4 linked regions of the Homo sapiens genome follow. The protein of the gene in region 3 purifies or fractionates together with the protein of the main gene of each other region. This does not show direct contact. Each region holds a gene or a part of one and is shown on either strand. Other genes may lie near its edges. The genes, in order: MKI67, RBM28, STK36 and SARNP.

The links.
Region 1: the proteins of STK36 (region 3) and MKI67 purify together in Homo sapiens (affinity purification with mass spectrometry; one large-scale study listed by BioGRID and IntAct). This does not show direct contact.
Region 2: the proteins of STK36 (region 3) and RBM28 purify together in Homo sapiens (affinity purification with mass spectrometry; one large-scale study listed by BioGRID and IntAct). This does not show direct contact.
Region 4: the proteins of STK36 (region 3) and SARNP purify together in Homo sapiens (affinity purification with mass spectrometry; one large-scale study listed by BioGRID and IntAct). This does not show direct contact.

Annotation. Positions count from the first base shown.
Region 1 is NC_000010.11:128,117,708-128,125,297, forward strand, and holds part of MKI67 (proliferation marker protein Ki-67), read right to left. Parts: intron 5,463-7,590; coding exon 5,384-5,462; intron 5,290-5,383; coding exon 5,174-5,289; intron 1,613-5,173; coding exon 1,546-1,612; intron 1-1,545. UniProt on the Homo sapiens protein: Protein that associates with the surface of mitotic chromosomes and acts both as a chromosome repellent during early mitosis and chromosome attractant during late mitosis.
Region 2 is NC_000007.14:128,296,198-128,303,787, forward strand, and holds the end of RBM28 (RNA-binding protein 28), read right to left. Parts: 3' UTR 1,488-7,590; downstream 1-1,487. UniProt on the Homo sapiens protein: Nucleolar component of the spliceosomal ribonucleoprotein complexes.
Region 3 is NC_000002.12:218,687,014-218,694,603, forward strand, and holds part of STK36 (serine/threonine-protein kinase 36), read left to right. Parts: intron 1-1,683; coding exon 1,684-1,863; intron 1,864-2,845; coding exon 2,846-2,943; intron 2,944-3,436; coding exon 3,437-3,542; intron 3,543-5,129; coding exon 5,130-5,280; intron 5,281-5,569; coding exon 5,570-5,697; intron 5,698-6,226; coding exon 6,227-6,331; intron 6,332-6,709; coding exon 6,710-6,808; intron 6,809-6,881; coding exon 6,882-6,970; intron 6,971-7,250; coding exon 7,251-7,314; intron 7,315-7,511; coding exon 7,512-7,590.
Region 4 is NC_000012.12:55,756,201-55,763,790, forward strand, and holds the end of SARNP (SAP domain-containing ribonucleoprotein), read right to left. Parts: intron 4,441-7,590; coding exon 4,351-4,440; intron 1,354-4,350; coding exon 1,312-1,353; 3' UTR 1,070-1,311; downstream 1-1,069. UniProt on the Homo sapiens protein: Binds both single-stranded and double-stranded DNA with higher affinity for the single-stranded form. Specifically binds to scaffold/matrix attachment region DNA. Also binds single-stranded RNA. Enhances RNA unwinding activity of DDX39A.

The sequences.
Region 1 (7,590 bases), on a different chromosome or scaffold from region 3:
CAATCTGAAGTGGAACAAGAATCTTATGACTAAACAATATAAATGAACCACTAATAAAATTATGAATATGTAAAGTATATAATCTCACTTTTGTTGTACGATTACATTCAATAGCCACAAAATTGCTGTCGAATTGCTGTCATATTTACTACATACTCCATTTCAGTACTCACTATATCACAGACCAGTAACAGAACAAACAGTTCCTAGACTGCTGAGTGGCACATATCTAACCCACAGTTCAACTGGCTTTTTGGTTTATTTACTCCCATAGACTAGCAAGTTGCCTGGTGGCTACAGTGTGGGATGCCTCAGAAACTGGCTTCCAGCACGGGAACTGATGACCATCAGATTCAACATTAAGGCTGCTCCTCTAGGGAAGAAGGCAGTACTTAAATGGCAGAAATGGACTGGGCATGGTGGCTCAAGCCTGTAATCCCAGCACTTTGGGAGGCCCAGGTGGGTGGATCACGAGGTTAGGAGTTCAAGACCAGCCTGGTCAATATGGTGAAACCCTGTCTCTACTAAAAATACAAAAATTAGCCAGGCATGGTGGTGTGCACCTGTAGTCCCAGCTACTCGGGAGGCTGAGGCAGGAGAATTGCTTGAACCCAGGAGGCGGAGGTTGCAGTGAGCCAAGATCGCACCACTGCACTCCAGCCTGGGTGACGGAGTGAGACTCCGTCTCAGAAAAAAAAAAAAAAAAAAAGGCAGAAATGTTGAAATTCAAGAGTACCTACTGCTAATTTCAGGTGCACCTAAGATAACTCTCCTAAGCCAAGATATTCCAAGGAGCTCATCTGAAACTAGCTTTAGGAGCACTCTAAAATGTAGGAAAAATATGAATTCTCAGGGCTCATCCTAAGCCTAAATCCCACTAAATTTCCAAGCACATGCCGACAACTGTGTTTTAATAAGCTGTACAACTAAAATACCTCTTCCACACTGATATACTCAAACTATCTAAATTGCGAAGCACGTGTCGACAATTATGTTTTCATAAGCTGTACAATTGGAATACCTGTTCCACACTGATACACTCAAACTATAGGATTCTCTCACAAGACAAAGCACAGGATCCCTTTTCCTGTTTCATGGGTCGTCTATCTATCAAAATAGAGAAGCATCTTTGGCACTCATGATTTTCATAATGTGATTATTTCAGACACATAAAGACGGATGAGTACAATGACTGGGCGACAAAATGAGCCACCAGATAATGCAATTCCCAAATGTTAGCTCTACGTGTTGGGGTTATCCTAATCATGGGTTTGCAAAAAGCTCGCAACATGCTCTAATAGACTTTTTGGCTAAAAGTGTAAGACCAACTTAGTGCTCTGATTTTGAACAATAAAGAGGAAATATCATTTTAGATTATTTTAATACGTCTAAGTTCAACTCGTTTTTATACTTTAGTTACATTTTCCTACTATAACAGTAACCACCCTCTTTGTAACTGATTTCAAGTAAGAAATCATTAAAGCATACATAAATGATTTCATATCATCGAAACGAATCAGCCCAAACTTGGATATTTTCTATCACCTGTTCACGTATTTTTCTTGGAAATTCAGTTGACTTCCTTCCATTCTGAAGACTTTCATTTTCATACCTGCAGTTTATAGAACGACAAAGATCCTGATTAAAAATTTATACCCTGGGGCGGAAGTCTCCATATCCACTTAATGTCCAAGGATCAACGAACAAACTTTGGGTTTAGTTCAAGACATCACCTTATACAAAGAAATAAATTTAGAGTTAGAAAAGTGCTTTTACACTAAAAACTAGGATTAGTTGCATCGAGTTTGTTTTGAAATACCACTGTCAGAGGCTGGGGACCCAGATTAACTTCTGATCACTGACGAACAGCCCAGGTATGATTTGACAATATTACCAAGCACCTTCTATGACATAAGCTAATGCACATGAGAGCAAAGTCAAGTTTCTTCTAGTTTAAGTCCATGGAAATCATCGGATGGCTTGGAAGGCCAGCCAGGAAGCCTGTAGGTAACTGAATCTTTCTCACGTTGTGAAGTTACATACTTCAGGGTAAATAAAAAGCTACACTTACACTACAGGGTAACTACAAACCTATATTTTAGAACACTATGATCACTTCAGTTTCCCACACATTCAGTCTGTATCTGAACAAGACAGGTACATCTTAAGAAGATCACCTTTAGCAAGATACATAATTGTCCTGGCAAACCTCAGTGATCAAGTCATAGAAGCAATCCTTTATTTTGCATAATGAAAACTTTTGGCCTCAGTGAAATGACCTGATTTGAATTTATAGGCAACCTAAGTAAGATCTGAAGCAGTCACACATCTGATATTATTTCTCATGGTAGAGAGTTTGGAATCAAGTCTCTCTTTCTAAGATTCACTTTCAAATCTTTGTTGGATGTCTTTAATCATCTGAATTTATCTCAATTTGGATAATATCTTGTTTTGAAAAATAGTTCAGCCCTCCAATAAACATCAAAAGCTTCCTACCTATAGGCCGGGCGCAGTGGCTCATGCCTGTAATCTCAGCATTTTGGGAGGCTGAAGCAGGTGGATCACTTGAGACCAAGAGTTCAAGACCAGCCTGGCCATCATGGTGAAACGCCGTCTCTACTAAAAATTGCAAAAATTAGCCGGGTGTTGTGGCGCGTGCCTGTAATCCCAGCTACTTGGTAGGCTGAGGCATGAGAATCACTTGAACCCGGGAGGCGGAGGTTGCAGTGAGCCAAGATCACACCACTGCACTCCAGCCTGGGTGACAGAGCAAGACTCTGTCTCAAAAACAAACAAACAAACAAACAAAAAGAAAAAGAAAAAAAGAAAAACTTCCTACATAGAAGTCTGTATTCAATAAAAATACTCTTTAAAAATGAAGGCAAACTTCCCAGAAGCACAGTAAAAGAAATGACTAGGGAATTTAAGTGGTGCATTAAAAAACAGCTAATACAAATGAAGACAATAACAGAGATTCATTTAGCAGAATGGATTTTTAAATGACCCAACTAATACGTTGTCTACAAGAGACGCAATTTTGATTCAAAGACACAATCTTTTAAAATAAAAGCATGGGAAAAGATATACCATGCAAACAGCAAGCAGAGGGGAACTGGAGTACTGTACTAACATGAGACAAAATCATCTCAGACAAAAGTTATTCATAGAGAAAAAGGACATTTTATATAAGGATCAATCCAGCAAGAAGATATTCCAGTTAAACACAAGAGGTCACCTGACAACAGGTTCCAAGAGACAACTTAAACCATAACAATTATGAAAAGTTAAAATTAAGGGGGTGGAAAAGTTATACTACACAAGCACTCATCAAAAGGAAATTAGTTTAACCATACTCATCATCCAAAGGAAACATTAAGCAGAAAAGAAAGCACTACTAAAAACAGAGGACATCTCTAAATGACAGAGTTCCATGCACCAAGACATCATTCTAAGTTTGTACACCATAGTACAGCCTCAAAATATACAAAGCAAAAACTGATAGAGATAAAAACAAATCAATCAATCAATCCTCAGTAGGTGATTTGAACATATCTCTTAGAATAATAGTAGGGGAAAATTTACTAAGATTATAGATTTGAATCTAACGGGAGTGTGTGTATCTGTATATGTGTATATATATTACATATTATATATGTATATATTATATATTATATAATATAAATATATTGTATATATATTGTATATGTATTATATATACCATATAGTATATACTGTATACAGTATATACTATATGGTATATATAATATATATTATTATATTATATATTACTATATAACATATAGTATATACTATATAATATTATATATTATATTATAATTATATATGATTATATATAATATATTATAATTATATATTATATAAGTGATATATATAATAATTATATATTACATATATATGAGACACTGTAGAATACAGTTTTCAATTACACAAGGCAGATTAGTAAGATAATTAGCCATATCTGCTCATAAAGCAAACCTTGACACATTTCAAAGACTAGACATTAGTCAAATGTCCATCAAGAATGAATGAATTCTGTATAGTTATGTATATTATTGTATATATTAAACATTTTTTTTTCAGTGAAATACTTATGCCATGAGAAGGAACAAACTACAGAGATGTCCAACATGCTATGAATCTCACACACAGAAAAGCACAAGCCAGGCACAAATGTATACATTCTTGTATCACTGTTAAGGACTTTTATAAGAACAGACAAAACTATCGTGTTCAGAGATCCATGCTTAGGTAGTGAAACTCGAGACGTTTATGATATCCTAAAAGCCAAAACGGTGGTTTACTTGCTGAGGGAATGAAGTAGTGATTAGACAACAGCATTTTTAAAAAGCTTCTGGAAATGTTCTATATGAGCTGAGGATGTATTAGTCTGCTAGGGCCACCATAATAAAGTCCCACAGACTGAATGCCTTGAAAAACAGACATGCCCTTCTCAGTGCTGGAGGCTGGAAGTCCAAGAGCAAGGTGTCAGCTGGATTGGATTTCTCTGTGCCTCTCTCCTTGACTTGAAGATGGCTGCCTTCTTGCTGCCTCTTCTCATGGGCTTTCCTCTGTGCACGTGTTCCCTAATCTCCACTTATAATGACACCAATCATCAGATTAGGGCCCATACTAATAGCTCAAAAAGCCTTCATTGCCTTTTTAAATGCCCTCTTTCCAAATACAGTTACATCCTAAGGTACGAGGGGTTAGGAATTCAAAATATGAATTTCGGGAGAGCACAAATCAGTCCATAATAGGTGGTGATCAAAAGGGTGTTCACATGATAAATTGACCTGTCCATCTTGTTTTGTACCTTTTTCTCTGTGTATATTTTGCTTTAAAATAAAAAAGAATAGAAAAATCTCATGCAGTTTCAAAACACTTGGAAGAAAATAACAAACTCCTTTAGGACAAGGTCAACCTCCCTCTGCATAATTATTTGCACCCAAATCCTTGAATTCCATCACATTTTGTCCCAATTAGTCATCTTCCTAGATCCATATCCTTTTAAATTAAGATTAGTGTTGAGAATGAAAACCTGAAATACTTTGACATCCATGAACATTAAAGAAGAATGACAGTTGACTTTGACACTAGTTTATGGTTAATCAGAAGATGACATTTACTGTTAGACCAATCAGCTTTTACCTACCTGAAGGAACGATCAATAATAGTTATTACATCTCCATGTTTTAGCCGTACAGGCTCATCAATAACAGACCCATTTACTTGTGTTGGATTTGTGGAACTGAAATTATGTAATATTGCCTGCAAGTGAAAAGAAGGGGAAATATGTAACTAATGAACAGATTAAAAGTGAACTAAAAAGCTTTAAAAGTAGATCTTCAAAAAACCCACTCACCTCCTGCTCATGGATTTCAATTTTGCAATGTTGTTTTGACACAACAGGAAGCTGGATACGGATGTCACATTCAATACCCCTTCATGCAAAAGAAGAAGGTTTTTTTGGTTGCTGCAACTTTTTAAAAGATTACCTCAATTTCCCAAAATAAAACACAATTTGACTAGAATGTTTGATCTGTAAATATGACATAAAGGAGTAACAAACAAAATGGGCAATGTAAACGATCTTGCATTTTGCAAAGAACTTTTGGAAGTATTAAACATGTAACTATTAGATCTTTAAAACAGAGAGTATGTAAAAACAAGGGAAAACACTAGAACACAAATCGAATTACCTTTTATATGAAAAGCTATACTTAAAAGACACAAAGGAATACTTACATCAATTTTGGATAATGACTATTTTTAATACTCTGTGCTTTTTCAAAAACGTTTGTTTGTAATGTTAAATATGTTTAGAGGTTTAATCATCCCCAAATGTGCTTATTTGATGCTAGCACTTCTGTGCATCAGTTTCTTCATATACAATAAAGAAATTACATTAGAACCTACATCATGTGATGTTCAATTAAATGGTTGTACATGTCACTAATTTGCCTAGCACATAGTAAATGCTCATTATGGGTAAGCTTTTCATTGTTGTTTTAAAACTACACTGAATTTACTGACAGATTCAAGTCTCTAAACAATAAAAATACTAATTTGCAAGCGACACAAAAAAAAAATCTAAATTCAACTTGTTTTTCCACAGAAAGCTAACACCATGGCAAAGTAGCAGAAGAGACAATTCCTAAACCTATACAAACTAATAATCAGAAGAGTTTGTTAGTAGGTTCTTGGAGTCTTCAGTGTTCCTGTTCTAGCCTGTGATCTTAAAAATTTGAATAAACTATGCAATGGCCTGTCTGTTCTCCATCTGAACCTTTGGAGTCTAAGAATCTCTCTTCCTACCCAGGTCATGTGACCAAACACTTAGGAATTATTTCTAAATTATAAAATCTTGCATGAAGATATATTCAAGGAGTACTGTATAAAAAAGCAAAAGGACTGCCACTGGAGATGAAATGTTTATATTTTTCCTTTTCAAGAGAAAGGTATCTATGGAAAGTGAAAAGCTTCCTTAACCCCAATAAAATAATTTGATTTTAAGGTAACAGGACATCAGAGCAAAGGAAAGACTATCCCTTACAACTGAGAATTTGTTTGGCAGGAGGACGACTATAGATGGGTGTTTCTGAGCTTTGGCACTGTTGACATCTTGGGCCAGATGCTTCTGTATTGTGGGGGCTGCCCTGAGCCTGGTAGGATGCCCACCCTGACCTCTCCTCCGCGATGACAGCGCATGCCCCTGTCCTATATTGTGACATGGAAATTCAAATGAATCCTGGAAGGTTAGATGACCCTCCTGTGAGAACCACTGTTCTCAAGAGATTGCAAATCCATGGCTCCAGCCCATGTTTCTACTGACCCTTGCCAGAATGCTAGGTATTGATCACACCCCCTATGCCAGACACCATCCCTGGCCCTACACACGTGATTAGTAACAAGACAGTCTTTGCCTTTGGGGAGCTCAGCCTAGTGGGAGACAAACCCACAACTCACCCCTGAAGCTGTGGGGTTGGAAATACAAGTTTTCATGCAAGGCTTCCTCAGAGGTGACATTTCACCTGATGCCTGAATGATGGAAATCACACAAGCTTGAGGAAGGGGAGAACTTTCCCATTGTAAACTTCCAAGTGTGTAAGAAGTACCAAGGTGAACAAAGGCTTGGAATGCCTTAGGCGGGAGGAACAAGGTAGGGGATGGGGTTGGGAGGACAGGGTGAGGCCGGGATGGGGTTGGGAGGACAGGGTGAGGCCTGAATCCCGTGTGGTCTGGGAAATGACCACACGGGAAATGACCCCCCTTCTCAGGCCTCTAGTGGGACACATGTCAGAGGCTGATGGGGCACTGTCAGCAACTATACCTGTTATACAGGGACAGGGTTATTACCACCACCAAACAGGACAGCAATATAAGAGGAAACGTTCTCGAATTCCAGGCAGGAAGACTTTCTGTCCCATTTTCCTATTGCCACAAGGAGCCAAGAGACAAGTGTATGGCTTCCTTCCTTCATTCTCTGTGTCCCCAGTGGCCAGGGATGCCCACTGTGGAGGCACCCGGGGGCGCACAGTGTCTTCAGACGCCTGCCTGCAGCCAGTGACA
Region 2 (7,590 bases), on a different chromosome or scaffold from region 3:
TCAAATTGTCCCTGTTTGCAGACGACATGATTGTATATCTAGAAAACCCCATTGTCTCAGCCGAAAATCTCCTTAAGCTGATAAGCAACTTCAGCAAAGTCTCAGGATACAAAATCAATGTACAAAAATCACAAGCATTCTTATACATCAATAACAGACAAACAGAGAGCCAAATCATGAGTGAACTCCCATTCACAATTGCTTCAAAGAGAATAAAATACCTAGGAATCCACCTTACAAGGGACGTGAAGGACCTCTTCAAGGAGAACTACAAACCACTGCTCAATGAAATAAAAGAGGATACAAACAAATGGAAGAACATTCCATGCTCATGGGTAGGAAGAATCAATATTGTGAAAATGGCCATCCTGCCCAAGGTAATTTATAGATTCAATGTCATCCCCATCAAGCTACCAATGACTTTCTTCACAGAATTGGAAAAAACTACTTTAAAGTTCATATGGAACCAAAAAAGAGCCCGCATTGCCAAGTCAATCCTAAGCCAAAAGAACAAAGCTGGAGGCATCACACTACCTGACTTCAAACTATACTACAAGGCTACAGTAACCAAGACAGCATGGTACTGGTACCAAAACAGAGATACAGATCAATGGAACAGAACAGAGCCCTCAGAAATAACGCCGCATATCTACAACTATCTGATCTTTGACAAACCTGAGAAAAACAAGCAATGGGGAAAGGATTCCCTATTTAATAAATGGTGCTGGGAAAACTGGCTAGCCATATGTAGAAAGCTGAAACTGGATCCCTTCCTTACACCTTATACAAAAATCAATTCAAGATGGATTAAACACTTAAACGTTAGACCTAAAACCATAAAAACCCTAGAAGAAAACCTAGGCATTACCATTCAGGACATAGGCACGGGCAAGGACTTCATGTCTAAAACACCAAAAGCAATGGCAACAAAAGACAAAATTGACAAATGGGATCTAATTAAACTAAAAAGCTTCTGCACAGCAAAAGAAACTACCATCAGAGTGAACAGGCAACCCACAAAATGGGAGAAAATTTTCGCAACCTACTCATCTGACAAAGGGCTAATATCCAGAATCCACAATGAACTCAAACAAATTTACAAGAAAAAACAAACAACCCCATCAAAAAGTGGGCGAAGGACATGAACAGACACTTCTCAAAAGAAGACATTTAGGCAGCCAAAAAACACATGAAAAAATGCTCACCATCACTGGCCATCAGAGAAATGCAAATCAAAACCACAATGAGATACCATCTCACACCAGTTAGAATGGCAATCATTAAAAAGTCAGGAAACAACAGGTGCTGGAGAGGATGTGGAGAAATAGGAACACTTTTACACTGTTGGTGGGACTGTAAACTAGTTCAACCATTGTGGAAGTCAGTGTGGCGATTCCTCAGGGATCTAGAACTAGAAATACCATTTGACCCAGCCATCCCATTACTGGGTATATACCCAAAGGACTATAAATCATGCTGCTATAAAGACACACACACACGTATGTTTATTGCGGCACTATTCACAATAGCAAAGACTTGGAACCAACCCAAATGTCCAACAATGATAGACTGGATTAAGAAAATGTGGCACATATACACATATGCAGCCATAAAAAATGATGAGTTCATGTCCTTTGTAGGGACACGGATGAAATTGAAAATCATCATTCTCAGTAAACTATCGCAAGAACAAAAAACCAAACACCGCATATTCTCACTCATAGGTGGGAATTGAACAATGAGAACACATGGACACAGGAAGGGGAACATCACACTCTGGGGACTATTGAGGGGTGGGGGGAGGGGGGAGGGATAGCATTGGGAGATATACCTAATGCTAGATGACGAGTTAGTGGGTGCAGCGACCAGCATGTCACATGTATACATATGTAACTAACCTGCACAGTGTGCACATGTACCCTAAAACTTAAATAATAAAAAAAAAAGACAATACGCGCACAGTTGAACATAGACCCTTATCAGTAGTTCTGTTTTGCCTTTTGTCTTGTTTCCTCAGAAGCATGTGATCTTTGTTCTGCTTTTGCCCTTTGAAGCATGTGATCTTTGTACCTACTCCCTGTTTTACACCCCCTCCCCTTTTGAAACCCTTAATAAAAAACTTGCTGGTTTGAGGCTCAGGTGGGCATCACAGTCCTACTGATATGCGACGTCACCCCCGGCAGCCCAGCTGTTAAAATTCCTCTCTTTGTACTATTTCTCTTTATTTCTCAGTCGGCCGACACTTATGGAAAATAGAAAGAACCTATGTTGAAATATTGGGGGTGGGTTCCCCCAATACTTCTGTATTTTTCAGATTCTCTTTACTGAGCATATATTATTTTTACAATCAGAAAAAAATGAACGGATTTATTTTCAAATGCCCCCCATTGCTCTTCTTTAAATATACAGAATATATTCTTTACATATAAAACACTGCTCCTTCAGAGCCAAGCAAAGGATCACTCATTTTCCCCTTAACTGAGAACAAGGGCTGCACATGAACAAAACGCCTGCTTTAAAATGTACCCATGGCTGGATGCTGTGGCTCACACTTATAATCCCAGCACTTTGAGAGGCTAAGGTGGGTGGATCACTTGAGCTCAGGAGTTTGAGACCAGCCTGGGCAACATAGCGAAACTCTGTCTCTATAACAAATACACCAAAAATTAGCTAGGCATGGTGGTGTGTGCCTGTAGTCTCAGCTATTTGCAAGGCTGACGTGGGAGGATCACTAGAGCCCAGGAGGTCGAGGCTGCAGTGACCTGTGATTACACCACTGCACTCCAGCCTGGGAGACAGAGTGAGACCCTCTCTCTCAAAAAAAAAAAAAAATGTACCCATATTTGTTTTCATCAGGTATGGTAAGATGACAGACACAGAGAAAACTATCTCTGCAAGAAGAGTTTGTTATGCAGTTCCCAGGAGGAGAGGTGTGTCACGCCTTGCAGGGCCACACAGGAAGAACTTGGGTCAGCCAAGAAGCAGAGGGGGTGAGGGAAAAGCACGATCCAGCGCCTTTAATGTAGTTTCCAGCAGAAAGGCAAGGCAAGGCAGGGAAGCAGGCTTAGGATTGGCTAATCTGTATAACTTTGGCAGGCCCTGGCTATAGGGATTGTCCCTAGTTGTCCCATGCCTGGCCCTGGAGTGATTTAGGGCAGGGGGAATATTGGCTTGCTGTGTCAGAGTTTGATAAAGGAGGTGACTGGGGGTGTGGGCTCTGGATTGACTGGTTTGCATACGAAAGGCACGCTCGACCAAGTTGTTTACTCTCTCCCCAAAGTAGCTAGCCCTGGGAGGGGCAGTCTCTCCAGGATAATGCATTATAAAAACAACAACAGCACCTGATTAGTATAATGACATATGTTTCTCTTCACAGCAGTTTGTAATAGCAAAGGTTGGAAACCGTTGAATGGGATTTCCATCACATAAAGAACTGGTTATGTAAATTATGTTACACTGATACAATCCAATGAGCCTCCCTTCAGAGAGAGGCACCCTCATGGCCTAATTACTTCTTTAAGGACCCCATCTCAATACTATCACATTGGCAATAACCTGAATTTTGGAAGGGACACATTCAAACCATAGCAGAGATGTAATCAAATTAAGATGAAATCATTGGGCTGGGCCTAAGCCAATATGACTGGTGTCTTTATAAGAAGAGGGAAATTTGGACATAGACCTATAGACACAGGGAGAAGATGGCCATGTGACAACGAGGCAGAGACTGCAGTGATGCATCTATATGCCAGGCAACGCCAAGAAATTCCTCATGAAGGAACCAACCTTGCCAACACTTTGATTTTAGACTTCTAGCCTCCAGAACCGTAAGGTGATAAATTTCTGTTGTTTAAGCCACCCAGCCTGTGGTACTCTCTTACAGTAGCCCTCCTGACTAATATAGGCCCTTTCTCAACTTTCCCTAGAAGCCCAGGTTTCCTTGCTACAACCCTGGCAGAGGCTTTGGCACATTTCACCCCTCCTCTCTTTGTGATTGGTTTTCACAAAGAAGCTCAAAGTGGAGGAATGATCTCTGGACATGAAGCCTGAGGACCATGCAAGCTCCTTCCTGCCAGAGGCTCTGTTCTGGGTTCTACCTGACCTGGACTCTGAGGGCTCTGAGCAGGGAAGGGTTAGAACCCAGCGTGGATCAAACATTTGAGATGAATCAGCACTGATAGCTGGAATGTGAGCTCCCAAGTGGCTTGAGCTCACTCTGCTCAGGACCCTCTGCAGCTCCTGGGGGAACACTGGCACAGACGGGTGCACAGTTAATATTCAGTTAACACCGGCTGGCTGAATGAAGGGCGAGCTATCTTGAGCCTGACTTTTCTGATCCTTCAATGAGCATGCTAACATCATCCAACCCCTGACCTTGTGGTGAGGATCAAAGACGTTAATGCCCACTAAACGCTTTCTACGATGCCTGGAAACAACTGTTATCAATACTGTGCTATGTTTTAGTAAAGAGGGCTGTTCCCTGAGAGCAAAATTGGCAAGTGGGTCTCACCTCCCATGCTGACTCCAATTGTTGGGTGCGGTTGCATGGATTGATGTCAAAAGCCTCCCAAGGCCCAGTCTGGGCCAGATGCAGGGACTGTCATGATCCCTTAGCAGTGTTTGCTCTGGAAAAGGAGGAACAGGGACCTGGGTGCCATCTCTTCACAGCGCTCCACCCCTAGGGCCTGCTTAAATGGCACAGCCAGCTCCTCAGAGAGACAGGACACACTCTCCTTCTGCCTGCAGTTGTGAGGAAAGAAGGGGCACTGAGGAGGATGGGTCACCCCGGGAGCAGAGCCTGGCTCATATCCTGGTATCCCTGCAGAGGCTGGAGGTGGGGCCAGCACCACCTGAGGACATGTAGCCTTCCCAGGATTCTGGCGTGTGTTCCCATCCCTAGCAGGAAAGAAGTGGAAATTAGCCAATCACCCTGGAAGTGGGCAACCAGTCTTTCTCCCCTTTCCTGTGAATTCACTCAGGACACTGGGGACAAAAGACATCACAGACCCTATCTCCCGTGCTCTTTTACAGTGGCTATTTCATTTAGTACTAGGGGGCTTTTTGCCTGTATTTTATAAATGAGCAAAGAGGACTGGAGGGTCTGAGTGATTTGTCCAGGGTCATCCTCTGTCCTTTGGCTTTTACCTGTGTCACCACAGCCTCCTGGGGAGATGGCTGTGAAAGTGGGCAAAGGGTGAGTCTCAGCTTCACAGGGCTGCAGCATCAGCAGCCTCTCTTGCCTGTCCGTCAGCACTGACAGGGGCAACACCTGGCCTGGCACAAGGCTCTCCGCTTCTTGCCCTCAGGACTTGGAGTCTCTTGGAAGGAGCCTCAGCCCTTCTCTTGGTTCCTGCTTTTGTCTCTAGCCTTCCTAGAGTAGCTCAGATCAGTTCACACCCCTCTACCCACGACTACCCAGGAAAGGACATGATCCCTCATTAAGACCCAGCTATTGCCTAAGGGTCACTGAGGGCCTCAAACCCCAGAGGCTCTGTGGCAGGCACCTGGGAGCCCACTTGGCGGGCCTTGCCCTGGCCCAGACATCACAGACCACTCTCACTGCACTGGCTATTAAGTGCCTGCTCTCTACTAGGGATTCCTAGGGGGTGGCCAAGAGAAGGAAAGACACCCCCACAGGAAGGATGGGCCCAGAAACTGACTTTCCATGGCTCCGACGAGGGGTCCTGAGGCACTCTATCGAAGTGCAAGTCCCTGAATCTGTGTCCCAAGCTCTGAAAATGCAAGAGGTGCTTGGAGCAAACAGGGAGTGTCCTGTCACTGAAGGTCTGCAAGCAGAGGGGTAAGGGACTGTTTGCCTCCTACAGATTTCCCTTCTTTCTCTTCTTCTGGGCCTCTGGGCCAGAGACAGGCATTTTACTTGATGCGATCATCCTCAGCACATGCCTGACACATAGTAGGTGCTCAGTAATTGTTAGCTGTTGTTATTAACCATTATGTGAGTTTAGAGTGCCCGTCCTATTGCAGAGAGGGAGAGAGCAGAGACAAATGGTGATTCTAAGAACCTGTCCCCTTCCCTGGGACTCACTCCAGTGGCTGGTCGCCAGTTGCACCCACACGCGGCTGGCTGCGGGCAGGAGAGCTGGGCTCATTCGTTCTGGCAGCTGTCCCTGCAGATGAGGATCGAGGGTATGTGACTGCCTGAGCAGCTACTTCAATCCTAATGTCCCTTTAATAGCTCTCGTCAAATTGCCACAGCTCTCCCCAGAGATTTTCATGGCTATGGAAAATAAATAGCCATTATCTGACCTCCAGGGGAATGAAGATGTCTGCAGAATTCGGGGAAAAGCAGTTATAAAACTGAGTAGAGCCAGCGCACCCTTTCCCTATTAGCAACCTCTAAGGGAGTCCTAGCTACTGCCTAGGAAATCACAAAATAAATGTATTCACTCCTCAGACTCTCTTTTTTCACCTATTAGTATGTATATGAGTACATTTGGCTTGTGGTAGATCAGGAGAGAGAAAGAAAGAAAAAACAACTACAAAAATATGTAATGATTAGTTAGTCCAGGGGTAGCAGGAAAAGAAGCTGGTCAAGTAAAGGGTTTAATCCTTTTTTATTTTTATTATTTTTTTAGACAGGGTATCACGCTGTTGCCCAGGTTGGAGTACAGTGGTACAACCATAGCTCACTGCAGCCTCAAACTCCTGGGCTCAAGCAATCCTCCTGCCCCAGCCTCCCGAGCAGCTGGGACTACAGTGCACACCACCACACAAGGCTAATTTTCAAATTTTGGGCAGTTTTACTATGTTGCCCAGGCTGGTCCTGAACTCCTGGCCTCAAGGGATCCTCCCATCTCAGCCTCCCATAGTGCTGGGGTTACAGGTATGAGCCACCAAGCCCAGCTGGAAGTTTTTAAAACGTTTCAACATTCAAAGAATGTGAGAATGAAAATGCCCTTCCTTTTCTTACCACCTAATTTGGAAAAGAGAAACTATTTTTTTAATCCCAAAAACATTTGGTATAGCTGGCAAAAAGTGTTCTGTTCTTATATATGAGACAGTTCCTGAAATAGGCCCTAGAGACAGCACTCACGGCCAAGTGGGACCTTGCTCTGGTACTAGCTCAGGTGGCCAAGGGGTTTCAGGAGAGGGTCTGGACTTCCCCACATCCTGCTTTCATCAGCTCTAAGACTAGGTGGTGACATCTGCTTCTCAATAACCTTCACCAGGCTTGCTGTGAAGGTCACCTGAGATAAGAGACGTGAAAGGATGCTGAAGATGCAAAAGCCTAAGCCAGGCAGCCCTGCTTGGCCTGGCCTCCTGGAAAGGGGCAATGCCCCAGCCCAGCACACAACCAGGGCCTCATGATGACAATTCTGCAAAACTGGTCCTTGGCTCGTCCTCCCTTGCCAGGATGAGACTGTGCAAAGCCCCACCCACAGGCAGCTGCTCCAGGTGTCGTTTAAGGGCTCCAAATTCCTTCCAACTAAAAGTATCTTTCCATCCCTGTTGGTATAGTGGTTAGGGGAAAAAAAATTAAAAGAAAATGAACAATGTATTTTCCACGTCAAGATGCCTGAACTTCCCATAACAGCTGTCACTTTAAGAAGCCATAAGAGAAAGGGCCAG
Region 3 (7,590 bases):
TGAATGTTGAACATCTTTTCATGGCTTATTCACCATTTGTATATCTTCTTTGGTGAAATATCTCAAATCTTCTGCTCAGTTTTTAATTTGGTTGTTTGCGTTATTGAGTTGTAAGACTTCTTTGTATATTGTCAACATAAGACCTTTATCAGATGGGTGATTTGCAAATATTTTCTCCCAGTCTGTGGTTTGTCTTTTCATTCTTTCTCATAAGAGTGTCTTTTGAAGCAAAAAATGTTGAATTTTGATTTAAGTTCAGTTACTGTTTTTTCCCTTTGTGGTTCATACTTTTGATGTTGTGTATAAGAAATCTTTTCCAAATGCAAGGTCTTAAAGATTTTCTCTTTTCCTAAGTTTTATAGTTTTAGCTCTTACATGTAGGTTTCTGATCCATCTTGAGCTAATTTTTGTATATAATGTGAGGAAAGGATCTAAGTTGATCGTTTTTGCATGTGGATATATAATTGTCCTGGCACCATTTGTGGAAAAGAACTCTCCTTTCCTCATTGAATTGGCTTGGCACTTTGCACTTGTCTTTTGGCGCTAACACGTTTTCCTCCTAGTGTTGGATAACTTGCAGTGTGGGGAGGCAGACTGAAAGCTCTGCCTTTAGGGATAAGACTCCCTCTGGTGGAATTCCAGCTGCACTACTCATTAGCTGCGTGATCTTGGACTACTTACTTGACTTATGCAGAAGCTTCAGTTTCTTCATCTATAAAATGGCTAATTCTATTTATTTCACAGGGTTATTGTAAATATTAAATGAGCAGATGCCAACATTTAGAACAGCTAATGGAATATTATAAAATACTTGGTGTAAATGTTCTTCTTTTGAAGAATAACCATTTAAAAATACAATACTGGCCAGGCATGGTGGCTCACGCCTGTAATCCTAGCACTTTGGGAGGCTGAGGTGGGAGGATCACTTGAGGTCAGGAGTTTGAGGCCAGCCTGGCCAACATGGTGAAATCCCATCTCTACTAAAAATACAAAAATTAGCTAGGTGTGGTGGTGGGCACCTGTAATCCCAGCTACTTGGGAGGCTGAGGCAGGAGAATCACTTGAACCCAGGAGGCAGAGAGGTTGCAGTGAGCCAAGATTGCACCATTACACTCCAGCCTGGAGGACAAGAGTGAAACTCTGTCTCGAAAAATAAATAAAGGGCAAAAATAAATAAAAATATAATACTATCCTTAGCATGCAGGCTGTATACAAATAAATGTTAGGCTGGATTTGACCTGTGAGCCATAGTTTGTCAACCCTGATCTAGAGTTGAATAATGTTGTTTTGTCTTTCTGTGGTTAAATAATATTGTTTTATATGCATTGTTTTGAATTTTCAGAAGCATGTGCGGTGCACGTGTTTTTTGTTTTTAAGGTGAAGGGCTGGAGAAGGGAGGGAGCAGATGGGAATGGCACTTAGTCTGACAGAGATCCTGAGGAGAGGCCCCTATCCGTTGGTCACTGGTGTTCTGTGTTAGGTAACCTGACCATCTATTGTCTTCTTCCCTGGTACAGTTCCCCTATTTCCCTGCTTTCCTTCTCTGTGTTTTAGACTTGCAAAGAAAGGAATGCAAGCATGTGGTCTGCTTTCCCAGCTCCTTGGGGATGCTTGGTATGTGTAGTTCTCCTTCTTTTACCTCTGAAAATATCAATCGTTGCCTCTTTCCCTCATGTCACCCAGATCCTGAAAGGCATCTTGGAGGGTGCTTCCCACATCCTGCCTGCATTCCGGGTCCTGAGCAGTCTTCTCTCCAGCTGCAGTGATTCTGTTGCCTTGTATTCCTTCTGCCGGGAGGCAGGGCTTCCTGGGCTGCTGCTGAGTCTACTCAGGCACAGTCAGGAGAGCAACAGCCTCCAGCAGGTAAGCACCAGGCCAGAAGCCTCTGAAGACTTACAGAGGTTCTTTTTCTTGGATTTATCTCATTCAGATTGCCATCTCTCTTTGGTCTGACTGCCTTTTATTTTCTTTCCTCCTCTTTCTAGTTAGTAGACTATTAATTGCAAACTCTAATGCCTTCTGGGGCCAGGCAGATAAGGTCTGCCATGAAGTAGGCTATGCATGTGACTATATGAGTTGTGGGGAATATGATGAACTAGAGTTCACATGCCTCCTCTAAATAGAGTAGAGGCATCCTTTCCTCAGCCTCCAGCCCATTGTTGCCACAGGGAAATATGGGCCTGAGAAAACTAGCCAGATCTTCTAGTTTTCTAAGAAAAGGTAGAAACCCAAATTTTTATGTGTAATTTTTAAATATTTAGAGCGCTGTGCTTTGAAATGTTAGATCCTAGGCTTCATTGACCTGATCTTACAGAGCAGAGTACTAAAATTCAGAGGTAACTCATACACAGTCACTAATTTGTAAATGGTCACAGAGATAACAAGTGGAAGAGCTGGGATAGAGACTCAATGTGTTTGGGGCCAAACCTCTACTTCCCCCTGCTGTGTCCTACGGTAGCTGGACTGAGAGGATGGGGAATGTTTCAGAGTCAGTGTAAATGCCTAATAGGGCCTAGGATGAGGCAGCTGGAAAGCTGCACTTTGTTGATGAGTATTAATCTTGGGTGATTTTAAGGAATTTAGAGAAAAAGATTTTTGAAAAATAGAACCTCCTATACTCCAAAATGCTATTCAGGCCAAACAAGACACATTTAATCCAGGCTGTTCACAGCCCATTGGCAGATTCTCTGTTACCCCTAGAACTCTCTCTCTGCCTATACTTCTCTTCTGTCCCTTTCTGTTTGATCAACTTGACTGGGTCTCTATACACCCTTTCTACTGTTTTTTCTATTCTTTGTTTCCATCCTTCACATTGCCCTTACTCTCTTCTCCTTTTCCTGGGCAGCAATCTTGGTATGGGACCTTCTTACAGGACCTGATGGCTGTGATTCAGGCCTACTTTGCCTGTACCTTCAATCTGGAGAGGAGCCAGACAAGTGACAGGTAGGATAAGAAGTGCTTTTGCATTGTTGGCAAGTTTGGCTTCTGTTTCTACCCCAAGTGCCCTTCCCATTTAGGAACAGGCCAAGTATGAAGAAGCTGTGATTTGTTACAGGTTTAGGAATCAGCTGAGTGGCCACTCATAGTCCTTTTAAGGACCCTAAGACAGCTCCAACTTGGCCTCAAGACTTACAGTTTCTAAGAGTCAGCAGTCACCATGGTCCTAAAATGGAAGGGTCAAGATGTGAATAACCTATTCCAGGAAGCCAATTGGATTAAAGAAAGAAAGAAAGAAAAAAAATATGCGAATAACCTAGAGAAAATGGCAAAGAAGGGGCTTGGAGGGTGTATGTGTGTGTGTGGCAAGGGAGAAGGGAGGAACATTCTGATGTGTCCCTTTGCAGAGATTCTCCTACCTGCCCAGGACTGACCCATTCACCACATCCAGGCTTTTAGTAGAGAGATAAGAAATCATGGGCTCATTTTCCACCCCCAGCCTGCAGGTGTTTCAGGAGGCTGCCAACCTTTTTCTGGACCTGTTGGGGAAACTGCTGGCCCAACCAGATGACTCTGAGCAGACTTTGCGGAGGGACAGCCTTATGGTAATCTGCTCCCACTTCCAGATTTCTGTGTCTCCTATCATTCTCCGTGTTTCTCCCATCCCCTTTCTTATGACTATGTAGGGTCAGATCAAGTTAATATGACAAACATTTGTTAAATTCCCACCATGCCATATGCCATGTGAGTAAGAAAAAGTGCCTGCCTTCAAGGGACTAGGGATAATTTAATAGGGGAGAGGTAAAGGGATTAAGGACAACAGTGAAAAGTACATTAGAACTTTGCATATAATACAAGAGCACTGCTGTATTTTATGAAGAAGATGCAGTTAACCACTGCAGAAGATGCACTTAACACTATTTGGAGTATCATAGAAGAAATCTCGAAGAAGGAAATCATCTCTGCTAGCATTTGAAGAATACATCGCAGTTTGCCACGTAAATGAGGCACAAAGTAGAAATTCTATACAGAAAGAGTAACATATATAAAGGCCCAGAGGCTTTAAGCAGTTTGGCATATTTCAGGGGACCACAAATAGAACGACTTCTTCTTGAAAAGACTTGCAGATCATCTAGTATTGTCTAACCTCGTTTGTCCTGAGGATTAGTAGACTATGCAGTTCTTTTCCCTAGATCCTGGAGGTAAGGGACAGGAGAATGGAGGATTGAATGAGAAAATAGCTGTGTTCTGACTAACCTCAGAGGAGATAGAGAGGAACATATATTTGTAAGGAAGTAAATAATTGCCTGGTCATTGTTAAAACTGGTAATTGGGAACATAGATCTGGACTACTACTTGCCTTTAGCTAGCATTCACTCAGACTTTCCTGGTCTGAGATCCTGTTTTAATATCCCTCACCCTTTCAAGTCAGAAAGCTTTTACTGTCTAACCTAAATTTTGGCCAGCAGTGACTCATGCTATTGGCCAGCACTTCTCATGTCATATGCTATGAATAGAATGGGGAGTTTGGAATAATTACCTCCTGAAATTCTGAATCAGTAGGACTGAGTTGGGAGGGACCCAGGAATCCCTAGGATTTCTTCTTTTCTTTCCTTTTTTTTTTGGAGACAGGGTCTCTCTGTCACCCAGGCTAGAGTGCAGTGGCATGATCTTGACTCACTGCAACCTCCACCCTCCGGGCTCAAGCAATCCTCCCATCTCGGCCTCTTGAGTAGCTGAGACTATGGGTGCACACCACCAGACCTGGCTATTTTTTTTGGATTTTTAGTAGAGACAGGGTTTTGCCATGTTGCCCAGGTTGGTCTCAAACTTCTGAGCTCAAGTGATCCACCTGCCTCGGCCTCCCAATCCCCTGTTGGGATTACAGGCATGAGCCATTGCACCTGACCCCTAGGAATTCTTATACTCACAGTCTATAAAAAATACTTTGAGAAACATCATCTAGGGAGCATCTGATCAGAGAATAGAAGGATTGACACCTAAAATTATTGTCCTTGAAGCATGAATGAAAGCAGTTCTAATGCATTTTTGGTGTGAAGAATGCTTAAAATTAGACATGTGTTTGCTTTGGTTTTTGTCCTCTTTCCTCAGATCCTCAGGGTTTTCTTGTTTTTTACACTAAGCCCAGTCTTCTGATGCCCTGATGCTACCTCTGCACTTCTCTCCTTTAGTGCTTTACTGTCCTGTGCGAAGCCATGGATGGGAACAGCCGGGCCATCTCCAAAGCCTTTTACTCCAGCTTGCTGACGACACAGCAGGTTGTCTTGGATGGGCTCCTTCATGGCTTGACAGTTCCACAGCTCCCTGTCCACACTCCCCAAGGTAACCAGAGTGGAGAAGGGAGGTTCTCTTGACTTACTTGTTGCATAGGTCAGGCTCCGCTCTTTCTATTGCCATCACCTAGATCGCACCTGGCATTTAGTAGGTGCTCAATAAATAACTGTGAACTGAGAGAATGAATGGGGATCTGAGGGAAACAAACAGACCTCATCCTGCATTCTTCCCACTCCCTTAGGTTCCCTACTCCTGCTGCCATGTCGGTGAGTACTGGTGCTATTGTCTAGGGCAAGAGCCTCAGGCCTTTGGAGTTACTCTTTGCTTTTCTCCACAGGAGCCCCGCAAGTGAGCCAGCCACTGCGAGAGCAGAGTGAGGATATACCTGGAGCCATTTCCTCTGCCCTGGCAGCCATATGCACTGCTCCTGTGGGACTGCCCGACTGCTGGGATGCCAAGGAGCAGGTCCGAGCTACAATTGGTTGTTCCTCTCATCCTACTGCCAGAGGAATTGAGGAGGCTAGCCCCAGTTTTTCAGAAAGGCAGAAAAACAAGCTTTTAAGCCCCTCCTTTAGTACTTCCAGAAACAGATGCTCCCACCCTGGGCCATTTGTAGAACATGATATAGCCAGAATCCCAGAGCCCATGGCCAGTTGGTGAGGGAGAGAGCACAGTGATAAACTGCCCAGATGGTGGGGCAGCTGATCTGAAGCCTCCAGTGATGCTTCCTCAAGGGCTGAGAATTCAGCTTTCCTGATCCCTGTTGGTCGGTAATCCTTTCCTCTGTACCTGGCTACACTGGGGCCAAACTAGGCCATGACTTTTGGTTCTCTATTGGTGATGAAGACTGGGAATAGAATGGGGTCTGAGGTTTCTGGTGAATGTGGGAAGAGTGACTAGGAAGAGACTGAGAGTCCTGATCATTTTGGACATATGTGAGGAATAGGGTTGTAATCATGTGGATAGGATTGAGCCTTCAGGTATGTCTCTATAGGTCTGTTGGCATTTGGCAAATCAGCTAACTGAAGACAGCAGCCAGCTCAGGCCATCCCTCATCTCTGGCCTGCAGCATCCCATCCTGTGCCTGCACCTTCTCAAGGTAATCCTCTTAACTCCTGGCATCACAGCTTTATTTTTAACTCCCAGTGCAGACAGAGAAGCAGAGAAACAGACCAAGAGAGGAGGACTAAAAGAGAGAGAGACTGAGAGAGACCATTTGAGACACCCCCTTGGAAGACTCCTTTCTGCTTTTAAATCTGTTCAACTGAGAGGACCCCACTGTTAGCCAGTCCTCAGCGGAACCGAGAAGGGTCCCTGTCTCACTATCTCATAGCAAGAGGCAGAAGGGGGTTCTCTCACACTCCCAAGTGTGGGTACCAGATCTTTTGAGGGGCTGGCCGGTGTTTCCGCTGAGCCTTCAATCTTGGAGCCCGGGGCCTGCCCTGCCTCACTGCCAGACTCCTTCCTTCTCCCTCAGGTTCTATACTCCTGCTGCCTTGTCAGTGAGGGCCTGTGCCGTCTTCTGGGGCAGGAGCCCCTGGCCTTGGAATCCCTGTTTATGTTGATTCAGGGCAAGGTAAGCCAGCTTCCCCTGGCAGCCCCACTGTCTCAGCCAGAGGTTGTTCTGATATCTTAGGTTTCCTTTGTAGGTAAAAGTAGTAGATTGGGAAGAGTCTACTGAAGTGACACTCTACTTCCTCTCCCTTCTTGTCTTTCGGCTCCAAAACCTGCCTTGTGGGTAAGTCATAAAGTAGGGTGTCTCCACAGAAGTCTTCTAGCCACATAGCTAACCCTCACAAAGAGTATGGGGAATGGTACCCTACAGCATATCCTTAGGAGGAATTGGGATAGAGAGCGTGAAGCTTTCTCTACAAAGAACAGACCTAGACTCCCATCAACTTTGTGCCTTGGAGGTAGACATGCAGCCTAGGTGAAGAACACCATGCAAGGGAGAGGGGAGGCCGCTTACCAACCTCCTTTAATACTGCTGCATCCCTTGATGTATCTCTTTATTCCAGAATGGAGAAGCTAGGCAGTGACGTTGCTACTCTCTTTACCCATTCGCATGTCGTCTCTCTTGTGGTAAGTTTTTAACCTTCACCCTCCTCCCCTTTTCACCCTAGCATCTACCCCTTGTGGAAGTGGGGGAGTCACTATCCAATTTGCATCTGTTTCTGGAGGCATTCTTTTGGACCAGGACAGAGACATAAATCCTCTCTGCCTGTCCTGAATGCCATTTAGATTTGGACATTCTTTCTCCTCTTTTACCTCTCCCACAGAGTGCAGCAGCCTGTCTATTGGGACAGCTTGGTCAGCAAGGGGTGACCTTTGACCTCCAGCCCATGGAATGGATGGCTG
Region 4 (7,590 bases), on a different chromosome or scaffold from region 3:
TTAAGGTTTATTTGGTTGAAGAGGTGTCAAAAATTTAACCAGCATTCCCTTTTGTTCACTTCTCCAAAGTCTCAGAATGGGGCAAACTTCACAACAAATGGGCAGCAGTTTTTGGATCTGCTCTCCAAGGCACAATTTTTCTAAATTATCTAAACTTTAGGTCCCTGCTTTCCTCACCAACCAGAGACTTTGGAGAAATAAAGAGATATCTTGACATTAGAAAGGTGATCAAACTATTACCATTTCATTAAGCACAAAACCAGGCAGGTTTTAGTAGAAATAAGGATAAAGGATTACACCACAGCAACATGGGACCTGATCATAGTACCAAAGTCTTCAGGTAAGGTGTCAGGCTCCTAAGTCTTATTACCAAAAATAGCTCAAACAAAAACCGAGCTTATATAAAGATTAAGAGGAGAAATTCTGCAATAACATATCCAAAAAGATTAAGCAGGTTTCAGATCTACATGAACTTGAAGCCTCCAGTTCCACTGCTTATGTTCCCAATGATTTAGCTAACAATGCGTAACAGCTCTGACATCCTCTGTCATGCTTTGATTCTGCATACAAAATTTCTTCTGTCTCTGAGGGATATCCAGCCCATCTCCCTTCCTGAACTGACTGACCAACATAGTATCGTATCACATCACCCTTGAAATCAGGGCCCTTTTCCTTTAATGTGGGACCCTGGACTCCATTTTATCCAAGAAAAAGTCTGCATTATTAGCTAATAACAGAAGGCTACTAATCACTGCCCTTGTATTTATATCCTTTGCAACACCTAAAACCTCCCATGTTCTGTTTTATTTCAGTGGGTCACTACAAGCTGCTGGAGCAAAGACTTGGTGGGTGGGTAACTTAACCTCTTCACAGAGGATAAAAAATGCTTGTGAGTATGACAGAAGGGAATAAACAGGCTTAAAGGGTAAACTCAGTCCTTTTCCTTGTCTTCTCTTCTAAGGGATAAAGGTATTATGGCCAATTCTCTATAATATTTGCCCCTGAAGCTCCCCTTATCTGGTCTAATCTAGCTCCAATAAATCAAAGGAGCACCTAATAAAACACATTGTTCTCTTTTCTATTTTTTTTTATTAACAAGCAACATAATCAAAAACAAAAACACAACAACCTTAAAGCTGAAACAGCAATAAGTCAAACTGCTGCCGCAGTTCATGGATGTACCTGGGGTACATGCTCCCTCATTGCGAGGCAGGACGTAGGCACATGACTGTGCATTTAGGCATATATGTGACCAAGAAGAAGGAGAGAAATGGAAAACACTGGAGAACAGAAAGTATCAGGAACTTTTCATCAGGCAATCCCAAAGCGCTCTGCTCTTTTCCTCTTCTTTGCCTGTAAAGAAGAAGCAAGAAGAAAAAAATTAGACTGAAGACAATAGTTGCCTGGGTTCCTGGCTGCTTTAATCCAAACTCACATGAACTGTCACAAGGCCCGAGAAGGAAGGATGGCCCAGACTTGAGCTTGGTAGCTAGAGATTTCATTCCTGAATCTCTCCAATCCTTCCAGTTATCCAGTAGGAGCTGGAAAGTTTAATGGGTAAGGAGGGTGAGGAGTAAAGAAGATTACTGGGGGTGAGGGACAGAGAGAAGAACAGTGGTAGAAAATGGGAAGATTCCTGAAGCAAAGAGAGCCACTCAGCCTGAGATCAAGCTAGCCTGGAAACAATGGGCTCTTAACAGGCTGGGAAAAGTCTTCCAGTCAATGGGGAGACGGAAGATTTCAGAGGATAAAGGATTAACCAATGCTATTCATAGAGGTGAAGGAGATGCCCTTCTGAGCAGTCAGGCCCAGACAGTAGCTATTCCTTAGGACTCCAACCCACAAAAAAGGCATATAAATCTTTGATGCCAACAGAACGAATAGGGAGTGAGTGGTATGTGGGTGAGTCCCTATCATAGATCTCTTAAAGGAGACAGCAACACTGGAGAGGACACAAAATGGTGAGGGAAGACTTCTGGTTCTGGAAGTGACTCACAGAACAGCACCAAGTCCTTCATGGGCACTCCCAACCACTGCCCCTAGCAGAATACAAACTCCTCTGGCTTTTTTCTAGTGAAGAGTGTTAGCTGATCTGACTCTAAAATTTTCAGGGTTTAATTTACAAGACTGACTCTGATACTTATTCATGAAGAAGCTTTTCATAGGCCAGGCATGGTGGCTCACGCCTGTAATCTCAGGACTTTGAGAGGCCGAGGCAGGCAGATCACGAGGTCAGGAGTTCAAGACCAGCCTGACCAACACGGTAAAACCCCGTCTCTACTAAAAACACAAAAATTAGCCGGGTGTGGTGGCACACGCCTGTAATCCCAGGTACTCAGGAGGCTGAAGCACAATAATCACTTGAACCCGGGAGGCGGAGGTTGCAGTGAGCTGAGATCGCACCACTGCACTCCAGCCTGGACGACAGAGCGAGACTCCATCTCAAAAAAAAAAAGAAGCTTTTCATAAAGCATCATCCTGTTGGTACTGTCCTCAAGATAGTAAGTTCTTGCCAGATATGGCTGTTTAAGGCCTTCCACCATGATTGTAAGCTTCCTGAGGCCTCCCCAGAAGCCAAGCAGATGCCAGCACCATGCTTCCCATAAAGCCTGCAGAAATGTAAGCCAATTAAGCCTCTTTTCTTCATAAGTTACCTAGTCTCATGTATTTCTCCTTTACAGCAATGCAAGAACAGCCTAATATACTTTTTTTTTTTTTTTTTTTGAGACAGTCTTGCTCTGTTGCCCAGGCTGGAGTACAGGGGTGCCATCTGGGCTCACTACAACCTCCACCTCAGCCTCTGGAGTAGCTGGGACTACAGGCACATGCCACCACACTCAGCTAATTTATTTTAAACTTTTAGTAGAGATGAGGTCTCACTATGTTGCCCAGGCTAGTCTCCAACTCCTGACCTCAAGTGATCCTCCCACACTGCTCTCCTAAAGTGCTGGGATTCTTTCATTTTGAGAAACTATCTGTAAACAAAGTGACAAGAACAGGAAGTCTCATTTGAGTCCACTGTCCTTTTCCAGAAATGAGTTAGGCACAACCAGTTCTTATTAAATATTTTAAAACTATCCCTTTTTATACAGAATCGTTTCACTCTTTAAATAAAACTTTGAGGTAGGTTTTATTATCTCCACTTCCTAGATGATGAAACCTGAGGCTCAGGAAGTACTGTAACTTATTAATACTAAGTGGCAAAGCCTTTTTCTTTTCTTTTTTTTTTTTTTGAGAGCAAGTCTCACTCTGTAGCCCATGTTGGAGTGGCGTGATCTTGGCTCACCGCAACCTCTGCCTCCCGGTTTCAAGAGATTCTCATGCCTCGGTCTCCAGAGTAGCTGGGATTACAGGCACATGCCACTGCACCTGGCTAATTTTTTTAAATAAGTAAATAAATAAATAAATAAATGTATTTTTAGTAGAGATGGGGTTTCACCATGTTGGCCAGGCTGATCTTGAACTCTCGACCTCAGGTAATCTGCCTGCCTCAGCCTCCCAAAGTGCTAGGATTATAGGCGTAAGCCACCATGCCCGGCCGCCTTTTTCTTTTTTGAGACAGGGTCTCACTCTATTGCCCAGGCTGGAGTACAGTGGCGCCATCCAGGTTCACTGCAGCCTTGACCTCCTGGGCTTAAGTGATCCTCCCATCTCAGCCTCCTGAGTAGCTGGGACTATAGGTGTGTGCCACCACGCCTAGCTAATTTTTGTATTTTTAGTAGAGACAGGGTTTCTCCATGTTGCCCAGGCTGGTCTCAAACTCCTGGGCTCAAGAGATCTGCCTGCCTCAGCCTCCCAAAGTGCTAAGATTACAGGCATGAGCCACCACACCCAGCCCAGAGCCAATTTTAGAATCCAAGCCTACCTGATTCCAAACGTTATACTCTTTGCCACTAGTCTAACAGACTCTAACACTGAATTAAGTATATTGATGGAATTCAGTGTTGCCACTTCACCCAGAAAAAAAGTTATCAAGAAAAAAGCAAAATATTTGGACACTTAAGAAGTAGGTGGGTGGCCAGACATAGTGGCTCATGCCTATAATAATCCCAGCAATTTGGGAGCTGAGTGCAGAGGATCGCTTGAGCCCAGGAGTTTGAGACCAGCCTGAGCAACAGAATGAGACCCCATCTCTACTTAAATAAATAAATAATTAAGAAGTAGGTGGGAAAACAGTGTTTCTCTACTCAGTTTATTCACTCTCACTTCCTGGGCAACAGAGACCCCAACTCGACTTAAATAAGTAAATAAATAAATAAATAAATAGGTGGGGAAACAATATTTCTCCATTCAGTTTATTCACTCTAATTTCCCTTCAAGGTCTATGAAGCGTTCCAGGTATATTTTTACCTCTGTATCCTCTGTGGTTCCAGTTCCAGCTGAACTTGTGACAATCCCAAATCGCTCCTTCCTCTTTTTCAGTTTCTCATCATCTTCAGACTGTTCAAGGACAAAGGAAAGAGTTGAAACAAACTAGCCTCCATTCACCAAGTAAATGGGAATGAAATGATAACTTATTGGTCACAAGGTGCTAACCAACCCTGTGCCAAGAACTAAGGATCACATAAAGAGATAAGATACATAAGAAACTGAATAAGCTAGCATATACTATGTTGTACCTAGAATGACTAAAAACTTAATTTTAGGCAGGGCCTCAATACTCATAAGACAAGTAGGGTAAAGAAACAGTAAGAGGCCGGGCACGGTGACTCACACCTGTAATCCTAGCACTTTGGGAGGCTGAGGCGGGTGGATCAGGCAGTCAGGAGTTCAACACCAGCCTGGCCAAGATGATGAAACCCCATTTCGACTAAAAATACAAAAAAATTAGCTGGGTGTGGTGGCGGGCGCCTGTAATCCCAGCTACTAGGGAGGCTGAGGCAGAGAACTGCTTGAACCTGGGAGGCAGAAGTTGCACTGAGCTGAGATTGCACCACTGCACTCCAGCCTGGGTGACAGAGTGAGACTCTGTCTCAAAAAAAAAAATAATAAATAAAATAAACAGTAAGAAACACCCATAAAACAAATTTCTATGCTCAAGCAATTCTGGCAGTTGAGGGATATGGAAAACTGAGGTTTCACTGAATAACACCCAAAGTTACACCTAGTAACACCTAGTTAGAAGGTACCCAAACTACTTGTTGAACAATGCTTACACGTTACCAAGGAAAGAAAGGGGAAGAGGGCCAGAGTGGTATTTCTGAAAAACTTATTTGCTTGAAACACCCAGCAAAGCCATAGAAGGCTCTGAATAGTTTGAAATGATTCTTAAAACAGGTGAATCAAGGTGACAGCCATGGTCAACTCTCTAAGAGAAATGCTGTGGACATTTTCCAAGCATCTGTGAAACTCATGATGTCTGCCTGGGAATGAGAGAATATTTCAGTTTACCATGAGTTGGAGCTCGCCATTATTCTAGGTGTTTTGTATCATTCATGTCCAACACTGCTCAGTATAAGAGTCTATATATTTTCCTATCAGAACCTAAACCCTACCATTTTATTTAGCCCACTTTAACAGTTATTTTCTCTTTCTCCACCTCCCCCTCACATCTTATCACCAGTCATCAGAAGCTCAGCCTCAGGATTAGAAAACATCTGAAATCAGGTAGGCTCCTCGGGTGTCTTTCCCCCAGGAAGGACTTTCTAAAATTTGGCACATATATAAAAAGATCTCATTCTCTCATAATCTCAAGAGACCCTCTACTCCCTAGAGATGTACCCATCCTCACTAAAGAGCAGGACAGTTTCTTTGACTTTATTTACGTTGTTAACCCAACAGAAGGACAGATAAGCAAGAGTTCAAACAAGGGCACAGTGGCTCACACCTGTAATTCCAGCACTTTGGGAGGCCAAGGCAAGCAGATCACTTGAGGTCAGGAGTTGGAGACCAGCCTGGCCAACATGGTGAAACCCATCTTTACTAAACATACAAAAATTGGCCAAGCATGGCCGCAGGTGCCTGTAATCCCAGCTACTTGGGAGGCTGAGGCAGGAAAATAGCTTGAACCCAGGAGGCGGAGGTTACAGTGAGCTGAGATCATGCCATTGCAGTCCAGCCTGGGTAGACAGAGTGGGACTCCGTCTCCAAAGAGTTCAAACAAACTTTTTTTTTTTTTTTTTTGAGACAGAGTCTTACTTCGTTACCCAGGCTGGAGTGCAGTGGCACAATCTCAGCTCACTGCAACCTGTGCCTCCCAAGTAGCTGGACTACAGGCATGTGCCACCATGCCCGGCCAATTTTGTATTTTTAGTAGAGACGGGGTTTCTCCATGTTGGTCAGGCTGGTCTCGAACTCCCAACCTCAGGTGATCCGCCCACCTTGGCCTCCCAAAGTGCTGGGATTACAGGTGTGAGCCACTGCGCCTGGCCTCAAACAAACTTTTAAAGAATGTCTGTGTGGTGCTTCTGAGCTGGATTTGTTTTTAAATCCCAAGGAAATTATAGTCCTACAGTCTATAGGCAGGCTGTGTCTCTGGGTGTCCCAAAACTACAAGGTCAAAAGCAAAGGTAACAAAAAGACCTACAGAAATATACAGCAATTTTTCAATGCCTCTACTCTCAACCCCAACCAAGGAGTTGTCTTTGTCCCTGTGGCCACAGCAGCCACCTGTACAAATCAAAAGCAGGGCAGCTATCCAGCTTTCTGTGCTCAATTTAACTAGTCCACCTGTCTGAACACAGCAGGCAGGAGTACTGTCTTGGTCTTTAACTCTTTCAGCTTGAGAAAGATGTTCATTTTCTCCCTTTTGCTGCACCTGCTTTCTAGTGAGTAGGAAGAGACCTAAGAAAGAATGATGGTTATGAAGCAATTAAGAATCCTATACAAGTTATCATTTAATCACAGTTTATTACTAGAATAAACTACTGCCTACACAGTTTTTCTGCCTTTCTCATTATGACCACCAGCAAATCCATAGCGGGTACCTCATTAATGTACTCTGAACTATTGTAAAAACATTAAGCCAGGTTCAAAGAAAAACATAAGTATTCTTGTCCTTAATAATAATAAATTAAAATAATAACATTATAGCCATGAACATCTGAGTGCTTAGTATATGCCAGGTACTGTGTGCAGTTCTTTACACATGCAATATCTCATTTACTACTTTTTTTTTTTTTTTTCCCCAGAGACAGAGTCTCGCTCTGTCGCCCAGGCTGGAGTGCAGTGGTGCCATCTTGGCTCAATGCAGTCTCCACCTTCCAGGTTCAAGGGATTCTCCCGCCTCAGCCTCCTGAGTAGCTGGGACTACATGCGCACGCCACCACACCTAATTTTTGTATTTTTAGTAGAGATGGGGTTTCGCCACGTTAGCCAAACTGGTCTCGAACTCCTGACCTCAGGTGATCCGCCCACTTCGCCTTCCAAAGTGTTGGGATTACAGGCGTGAGCCACTGCATCCAGGCTCATTTACTACTTTATTTTAATTTTTGCAGAGAGGGGGATCTCGCTATGTTTCCCAGGCTAGTCTTGAACTCCTGGGCTCAATCAATCCTCTTGCCTCAGCCTCCCAAAGTGCTGGGATTACAGGTGTGAGCCACTGTACCTGGCATCATTTACTTCTTATAATAATCCTATGGAGTAGGCACA